Homo sapiens: one gene and its partner. The protein of the gene in region 2 interacts with the protein of the main gene of each other region in a biochemical or structural test. Each region holds a gene or a part of one and is shown on either strand. Other genes may lie near its edges.

Evidence for each region. Proteins that work in one complex are often made in the same cells at the same time.
Region 1: the proteins of PRKCB (region 2) and ZMYND8 form a complex in vitro, tested with the Homo sapiens proteins (one study listed by BioGRID).

The regions. Positions count from the first base shown.
Region 1 is NC_000020.11:47,245,200-47,248,699, reverse strand, and holds part of ZMYND8 (MYND-type zinc finger-containing chromatin reader ZMYND8), read left to right. Parts: intron 1-2,182; coding exon 2,183-2,692; intron 2,693-3,500. UniProt on the Homo sapiens protein: Chromatin reader that recognizes dual histone modifications such as histone H3.1 dimethylated at 'Lys-36' and histone H4 acetylated at 'Lys-16' (H3.1K36me2-H4K16ac) and histone H3 methylated at 'Lys-4' and histone H4 acetylated at 'Lys-14' (H3K4me1-H3K14ac).
Region 2 is NC_000016.10:24,216,983-24,221,111, reverse strand, and holds the end of PRKCB (protein kinase C beta type), read right to left. Parts: 3' UTR 1,152-4,129; coding exon of another isoform or gene 999-1,151; 3' UTR 501-998; downstream 1-500. UniProt on the Homo sapiens protein: Calcium-activated, phospholipid- and diacylglycerol (DAG)-dependent serine/threonine-protein kinase involved in various cellular processes such as regulation of the B-cell receptor (BCR) signalosome, oxidative stress-induced apoptosis, androgen receptor-dependent transcription regulation, insulin signaling and endothelial cells proliferation.

The DNA of each region.
Region 1 (3,500 bases), on a different chromosome or scaffold from region 2:
GCAATGGTCCCTTTGTGTGGGGGTGTCCCTCCCAATCTAGACTGGAAGCTCCTTGAGGGCAGGGAGGCCGTTTTATGAGGATTTGCCTTCTCTATGGTACTTGGTCTGTGCACATGGTAGATGCTCTGGAATGTTTGTTGAATAAGTAAGTAAAGCTAGGAGGGCATTTGTAAAGAAGTGGGGGATGGCTGGGCCTCTGGAGAGCAAGCTCCTCTGAGTGTCAGTGGGTGCTCTGCATCTTCAGGTGAGAAAGCAGCTAGAGTTAGGGACCCATCTGGGGCTATCCAGAGGACAACAGCTCCCGTTGGGTTGCCTGTTTGGTGAGGACATTGGGTGGCATGGGTGAAATTTGGCATGCCATTTAAATAATCCTCTTGGGTCCTTCCATGCAGCTGGCCCAACTCTTGATTTGTTTTTATTGCTAATAAGAATTTTATTATTTCCATTTACTGAGTGTTTCCTTGGACACTATGCTAAGCACTGCATATAGATTGTCTTGGGAGGTTGATACTTTTATCAGTCCCATTTTGCGGATAGAGAAACTGAGGCTCAGAGAGATAAATAACTTGTTCAGGGTCACACCAGTAATAAAAACAGAAAAGCAGGATTTGAATTCATGTCCTTTGGACTGCAGTACCCAAGCTTTTCCTATCACATATGTGCTTACACTTTTCCTTCTTGTTTCCAATCATTACCTACCAGTAGCACAAGCCTAGGATCCCAGAATTATACCAGATCTGGGTGTTTGTATTTTGGCTTGTGTTCTTCCTGTGTTGCCCTGGCTAGCCTTGAACTCCTGGGTTCAAGCAGTTCTTCTGCCTCAGCCTCCTGAGTAGCTGGGACCACAGGTGTGCACCACCATGCCTGGCTCGACTTGTGTTTTTGATTGAGCCCTGGTGGAGGCAGATACATTCCCCAATGATCCAGCTGATCCCCCATGCCCCGGGCTGTTCATGGCTCTGGTATTTTTGCAGGTTTCTTTTTGGTGTATACAAGTCGGACAGTGGCACCATTCACAGTGGCCATTGCTCTAGAATGAAGAGATTGCACAGACTTGATTGGGTTTTCTTTCCTCTTTCTAAAAGTTTAGGATATGGTATTATTATCTACAGTATGATGGCATAACATATGGTTGGGGGCAGGAGCCGTAAATGGGTTAAATGGAACTATTGTTAGAAATGTGCTTCTGCCCATTTTTGTTTGTGTGTATGAAACACCTGCTAGTTTGTGCTTCTTCCTTTTGAAAGAGACAGAAGTATGTGACTTCTCTCTTGACTCCTTTACCAGTGGAAGAGCAATGCACACCGAGTGGCAGTTGACTTTCCACGAGTGCAGGGAACAAGAGGGAGGGCTGGGCACCCGGGTCACCTGGAGACAAGTGTGTCCCCCGCCTAGAGGAGCCAGTGGCTTTCCTGTTCCAGCCAATGCCTGGCAGGCTGGTGACCCAGAGCGGCTAGATTTTCCGCTCTTTCATCAGAAGCCCCTGCTTTGATTTCTATATGAAATTTCCTGATTTGTGAGTTGGACAACACATTTATAAATTAAAAGCAGACAAGATACCCTGTGGGCCAAACCAGTGCCTCTCGCATGAAACATGTCTGCAAGCTAGATGTGGCTTGTGGGCTGTTTGCAACCTCTGCTTTAAGGCTTTGGCTTATTTTCTTTGGCCTAGACACAAAGGATCAAGAACTTTAACCCTTTGGAAACCCAAGGGAAGAGTGTTGGTGGGGAGCCAGGAACCCGGGGTTCTGGCCTGGCCTCTGTCTTGTGTCCTAGGGCAGGTGATATCCCTGGGCCTCTGTTTTCTAATCTGTAAATTGGATCAGTTTGAACAGCTTGTCCCTGCTGTTCCCTTCCAGCCCTCTTCATTCTCAATAATCCCAATTAGTTATCAACGTTGCAAAAATTTGGCACCACATGTTTAGTGCCATATAAATTTAAAATCTCCGTTGGTAGGTCCTGTGTCTCCTAACAACCAAAACCCTCTCCCAAGGCAAGTACCACTTGGCAGCCGTAGCCAGTTGCCACTTGAGATTATTACTGGCCCCATTTAGGCCAATGTGATGCGATTTGAAACGTGCTTTTCTTATTCCAGCATTTGGTGTGGAAAAATGTTTGCATTTTTCATCCTGCTCTTTATTTTGTGACTACGCCACATGCTGGGTTTTCTTTTTGAATTTAGGCATAAATGAAATCTCGGAAGATGTCTATACGGCCGTAGAGCACAGCGATTCGGAGGATTCTGAGAAGTCAGATAGTAGCGATAGTGAGTATATCAGTGATGATGAGCAGAAGTCTAAGAACGAGCCAGAAGACACAGAGGACAAAGAAGGTTGTCAGATGGACAAAGAGCCATCTGCTGTTAAAAAAAAGCCCAAGCCTACAAACCCAGTGGAGATTAAAGAGGAGCTGAAAAGCACGTCACCAGCCAGCGAGAAGGCAGACCCTGGAGCAGTCAAGGACAAGGCCAGCCCTGAGCCTGAGAAGGACTTTTCCGAAAAGGCAAAACCTTCACCTCACCCCATAAAGGATAAACTGAAGGGAAAAGATGAGACGGATTCCCCAACAGTCCATTTGGGCCTGGACTCTGATTCAGAGAGCGAACTTGTCATAGATTTAGGAGAAGACCATTCTGGGCGGGAGGGTCGAAAAAATAAGAAGGAACCCAAAGAACCATCTCCCAAACAGGATGGTAAGTGATTGTATCTGTTTCCAGTTTTCTTAATTTGGTTTAGAATCCTACCTCGTACACTTACTATCAAAAGTTATGTGACCCTTAAAGAAACAAATCAGAAGTTATGTGACCCTCTAACACACTGAGAGAGAGGCACAGTGAAGCTGTGTTTGGTTTAAGGTTGCCTAGCTAGTCATAGAACAGGACCTGGACTCAAACATGGGCCTGCCTACCTTTAACCTGCTCGGTATCCAGTATGATTGATTTTGAGTACAGAAAGAGAAGTCTGTTAGAAAATGATGGTTACTTTTAGTGACCAAGTCATTTTTAGTCTGAGCAGCTTCTTTTCCAATATGCTCATTTATTTCCCCAAAGTGTTTGTTAACATTTGGATCTTGTCAAATGGTCCTTCAGTGCTGCATTCCACAGACATCTCATTCTCTTTTGACAAGTCTCAAACGGTTAGGAGTGTTCATTTCAAGCTGGGCATGGTGGCTCACGCCTGTAATCCCAGCACTTGGGGAGGCCGAGGCGGGTGGATCATTTGAGGTCAGGAGTTCAAAACCAGCTTGACCTACATAGTGAAACCCTGTCTCTACTAAAATACAAAAATTAGCGGGGCGTGGTAGCAGGCGCCTGTAATCCCAGCTACTCGTGAGGCGGAGGCAGGATAATCGCTTGAACCCAGGAGGCGGAGGTTGCAGTGAGCTGAGATTGCGCCACTGCACTCCAGTGTGGGTGGCAGAGCAAGACTCCCTCTCTAAAAAAAAAGCAGTGTTCATTTCAAAGGTTTTGATGATTTCAGCTTTGCTTTCCTCCCCTCATG
Region 2 (4,129 bases):
TTACATATCTTGTGCTTGATACATAGCTTAATAAACACGAATCACATTGAGTGGGTGGCTGCACACATACCCTGATTAGGGGCACAAGAAAATATTAAGGTCCTCAAACCTGTGACTCACGAATGACAGAGGTTTCAACCTCAAGTGGCTATAGCAGCCAGGGAAGTGGATGGAGGGTATAAGACAATAGGGGGTGGTGGAGACTGTGGCAAAATGAGAACATACACTGCTTTTAAAGGAGAAGCATTTCTCAGTTCTGTAGAATTATTTCCATGTGGAAATACAGGCTCAGAGCTGCTAGTCTTTTGTTTCTTTTTTCAAGGGAATCTAAAAGTCCAGGAATTTATATAAAGTATCTTATTTTGTCATGTTCACAATGGTTTTGATTAAGTAAAATTCCATGTGAGTAAAATTAAGCTTATCTAATGGCTACAAACTGGATCTTCAGTCTGTAACCTCTGTAACATAGTCTATTTAAGAAAAGACATATAAACAAGAGCTTGCATATATTAATTCAGTTTAATCATATCAATTCTTAAACAAAAAACTTCCTCCAAGAGACAATAGTTCACAGTAACTGCAAAGCTTACTCACAATTTTTAAAAATATCGCTCATGCTTAGCATTCAAAGAAGATATTATAGAATAACTGTAAAAACTTTTACCAGGAACATCAGCTTCTGACTTGAAAAATTACAAATACTGAAGCATTTTGGTATCAGACACAGTAGTTTTGACATTGTCTGTTCATTTGATGAGTTTCTGGAAGTTTGGAAAATTGTACCTCTATAATTGGATAATGCGCTTATTCTAAACTAAACATTTTCAAATGTAGAAAACAAACTAGCAAGCTACACATACAAAGAAAAGCCCTCTAAGACAAGCTTTCCACATGTTGAATGCCAGCATGTGCACCGTGAATCCTGGAAGACTAGAATTGATACATACGCTTGGCTTGAAGTCTTACACCCCAGGCTCAACGATGGAGTTTGCATTCACCTACACATTAATGACAAACTCTGGGTTAGTATAAGAGAAGCCAGCAAATTCATTTTGGTCCAAGTTCATGATGAAGAGTTTATCAGTGGGGGTCAGTTCCACAGGCTGTCTGGTGAACTCTTTGTCGAAGTTGGAGGTGTCTCTCTTGTCTCTCTGCCAAATGGAAAGTAAACACATTAACACAGCGTAAGAAGAAAGACACAGGACCAAGATACGCCAGTCATTGGGTGGCTGATACCATCTCATGAGCAGAGTCAGAAAGAGCCCTGTGCTGAAAATTTTTAGCAGCTGCACTCCACGCACTGGCTTTCATTTCACATTGTATGTTGGCTTGGGGATAGAAATGTGGTGGAAATTTTCTAAGAAAAGAAGTAAGTCATTGAATGTCAGTTAAGAATTGCCATAAAGTGGTGTGTGTGTGTGTGTGTGTGTGTGTGTGTGTGTGTGTGTGTGTGTGTTGCTGTATTTTCTTTGGCTTTAGGATGAATTGAATTGGAAGCTACTTATTACCATGCTTAATGTTATAGAAATAATCATTAGGTAGAGCGTCCTGGAGAAAACCATTCAGTAGCAGCCCAGGTGGCTAGAAGACCTCTTTCTCTGAAAAGGTGAACTGCTGCCCATCTACTCTGCCCCCAAGAAGGCAGAATGGCCATGTGGAGAAATCAGATCACTGCTTAATGAAAGGAATTGACCACCGTCAGCTCGAAAATCCACCCACAGTCTAGAATTGGGTGTTTATCAGGCAGAAGTTCTCTCCAAAGACATTTTTAGCATGTGTCAACAAACTATAAGAGAGAAAACCCAAAGCTTAAAGGAGGGTGTGTAAGGGGAGCCTTAAAACAAAACAAAACAAAACAAAACAAAAGAAACTCAAAGCAACTCGATTCTCCTAGTAAGTCTGGCATTTCTTTTTTTGTTCAGTAGGGAGGTGGAGAAGAAATTAACCCCCATTTACTAGCAATTGCTTGGGGCAAGTCTCACCAGGGAACATCAGAATGTGGGCTAATAAAGGAATCTGTATGATGCTCCGACCTCTTCAGGGTCCTTGCAAGCCTCTTGTCTTTCCTCATCATCACCACACCCACCTGGGGCAGGTGGAGCTGGAGTCCTCACCTCCTATATATGACATATGAGAGAACCGAGGCACAAGCAGGCAGGGTGGCTTGCCCAAGATTTCAGTGGGTTCCTGATTTTTACCTGACCACATCGCTGCTATGTAGGCCTCATCACAGTCTCTCGGACTGGAGGGACAACCCCATGGCTGTTTTATTACAAGACAACCAGGGAAGAAGGCCTTGTATTCCCTAGTGCCCTGCACATTCCCGGGCTGCAGCCAAAGTTGCCTCAGATTATAAAGGCCAGGGGGTCGGTAAGGATTCACTGACTCATTAGCGTTTGAGCCATCACCACCCAGGCTTTAGGTTTAGCCCCCTAATGGGCACTAGCTGTTAAGGATCTCTCATTGCTGGGTTCACTCTCCTTTGCAAAAGACCTTTTACAAGACTTGCTTCTTTGTGGCTGCTCCCCTGAGATAGGTAAAATGTCTCTATGGAGTTCCCTCCTTACTCTTGCCAAGTCTATGTGAGGGTGTGGGAGTGAGGTGGGCACACTGAACTCAGGAGCACACGTGGGTATGTGTGGCTAGAGTGGGGCAGGCTAAGATGCTGATGGAGCTGTTTCCTGGGTAGGGTCCATCTCTACCATGTCCCACCTGCCCTTTTTGTCTTGTCCTGCTTGCTGTTAGCCTGTGGGGTGCTATAGGAGTTTCCATCCCCCAGGCGCTCGGCATGTTACTTCCGGTGTTCACAACAAAGCTCGAATGCCTCCTCTTTAATATTGTCTGTGCATCTCTCTCCCAATCCCCACAAGTCACACTTTAGCATCCTTTAATTATCTTGATTGCACTTATTGCTTTCAGAAATTGTCTTGTTTATTTATTATTTCTCTCCAAGAAACAATATTCTTGGAGAATTTCTTGGAGAGAAACAATAAACAGGGTCCTCATCTGCTTCTTCACTAGTGTATTTCCAGTGCTAAGAATAGTGCCTGGCACACAGTAGGTTGTTTGTAATTATTTGTGGAATGAAGGAAGACTTGGGATATGCCTCTATCCTTTTTGCAACTTATAATTGTCCCCGAGCCAGAAACTTTACTCTGAGGCAAAACAATGGAATTGATTCCCATTGATCCTAAAGGTCTCCCAAATGGGCCACTGTCCCTTTTGAACCCCTGTATGAACTGAACTGTGTTAGGGCCCCTAAAGGTCTGAGAACTCCAGGACAGTGTGTGAGCTAAAAGGCAGGTATATTTGGAGCTAGAAGACACAAAGCTGCCTTTTTTTTAGGTCTCCCCTGGTCTCATCAACCCTATTTCGCTTTCCCTGCCTGTGGGCCTCTTATCAAAGATTCCCTTCTGACCAGCCCCACCTTGGAAAGCCCTGCCCCGTTTGTTGTGCTGGTGATGGCTAATGCTTCAGATAACCACATGGTCCAGACAGGACTTGCTTTTATGGACTTTGTCCTGTGGGCAGATCCCCAGAGAAAATACTCCTGGATTTTACCGTAGAAGTTGGGAGAGAATAAGCTTCTCTGTTGAGATCATTTCTTTGAGGTTGATAGCATCTGAAGCCATGTGAAAACAGTAGCACTCATCCAAGGAGGGTTATTAATTCTACTGACCTCCCATTAATCCCCCAAGAAGGTCCTTGTTGCTATGGCCCTGTCCTCTCTTCAAAAAGCTCTGTTTCTCAGTTTCTTCTGCACTGGAAATGTGGATAGAAAAGGAAGTGGTAGAAATTCTGACTTTCCATGGAAAGTTTCTCTAAAACAGACTTTGGCTTGAGTATCTATTTCTGCAAACTATTAAACTTTTGAAAAATAATGGCAAGAATTTGGAAAATGTTGAGTGCAGTATTTATAACACTATATTCCTTCCTTCCTTCCTTCTTTTCCTTCCTTCTTTCCTTCCTTCCTTTCTCTTTCTTTCTTTCCTTCTTTCTTTTTCTTCTTTCTTTCCTTTCTTTCTCTTTCCATTCATCCTACATTGTTTTCTAAAGTTGTCTCAGATCATTTGTCAATGGCCTAGTGTTTCTCCATGGTTTTTATCTTCCTGAGAGCATGTCCAAGCAA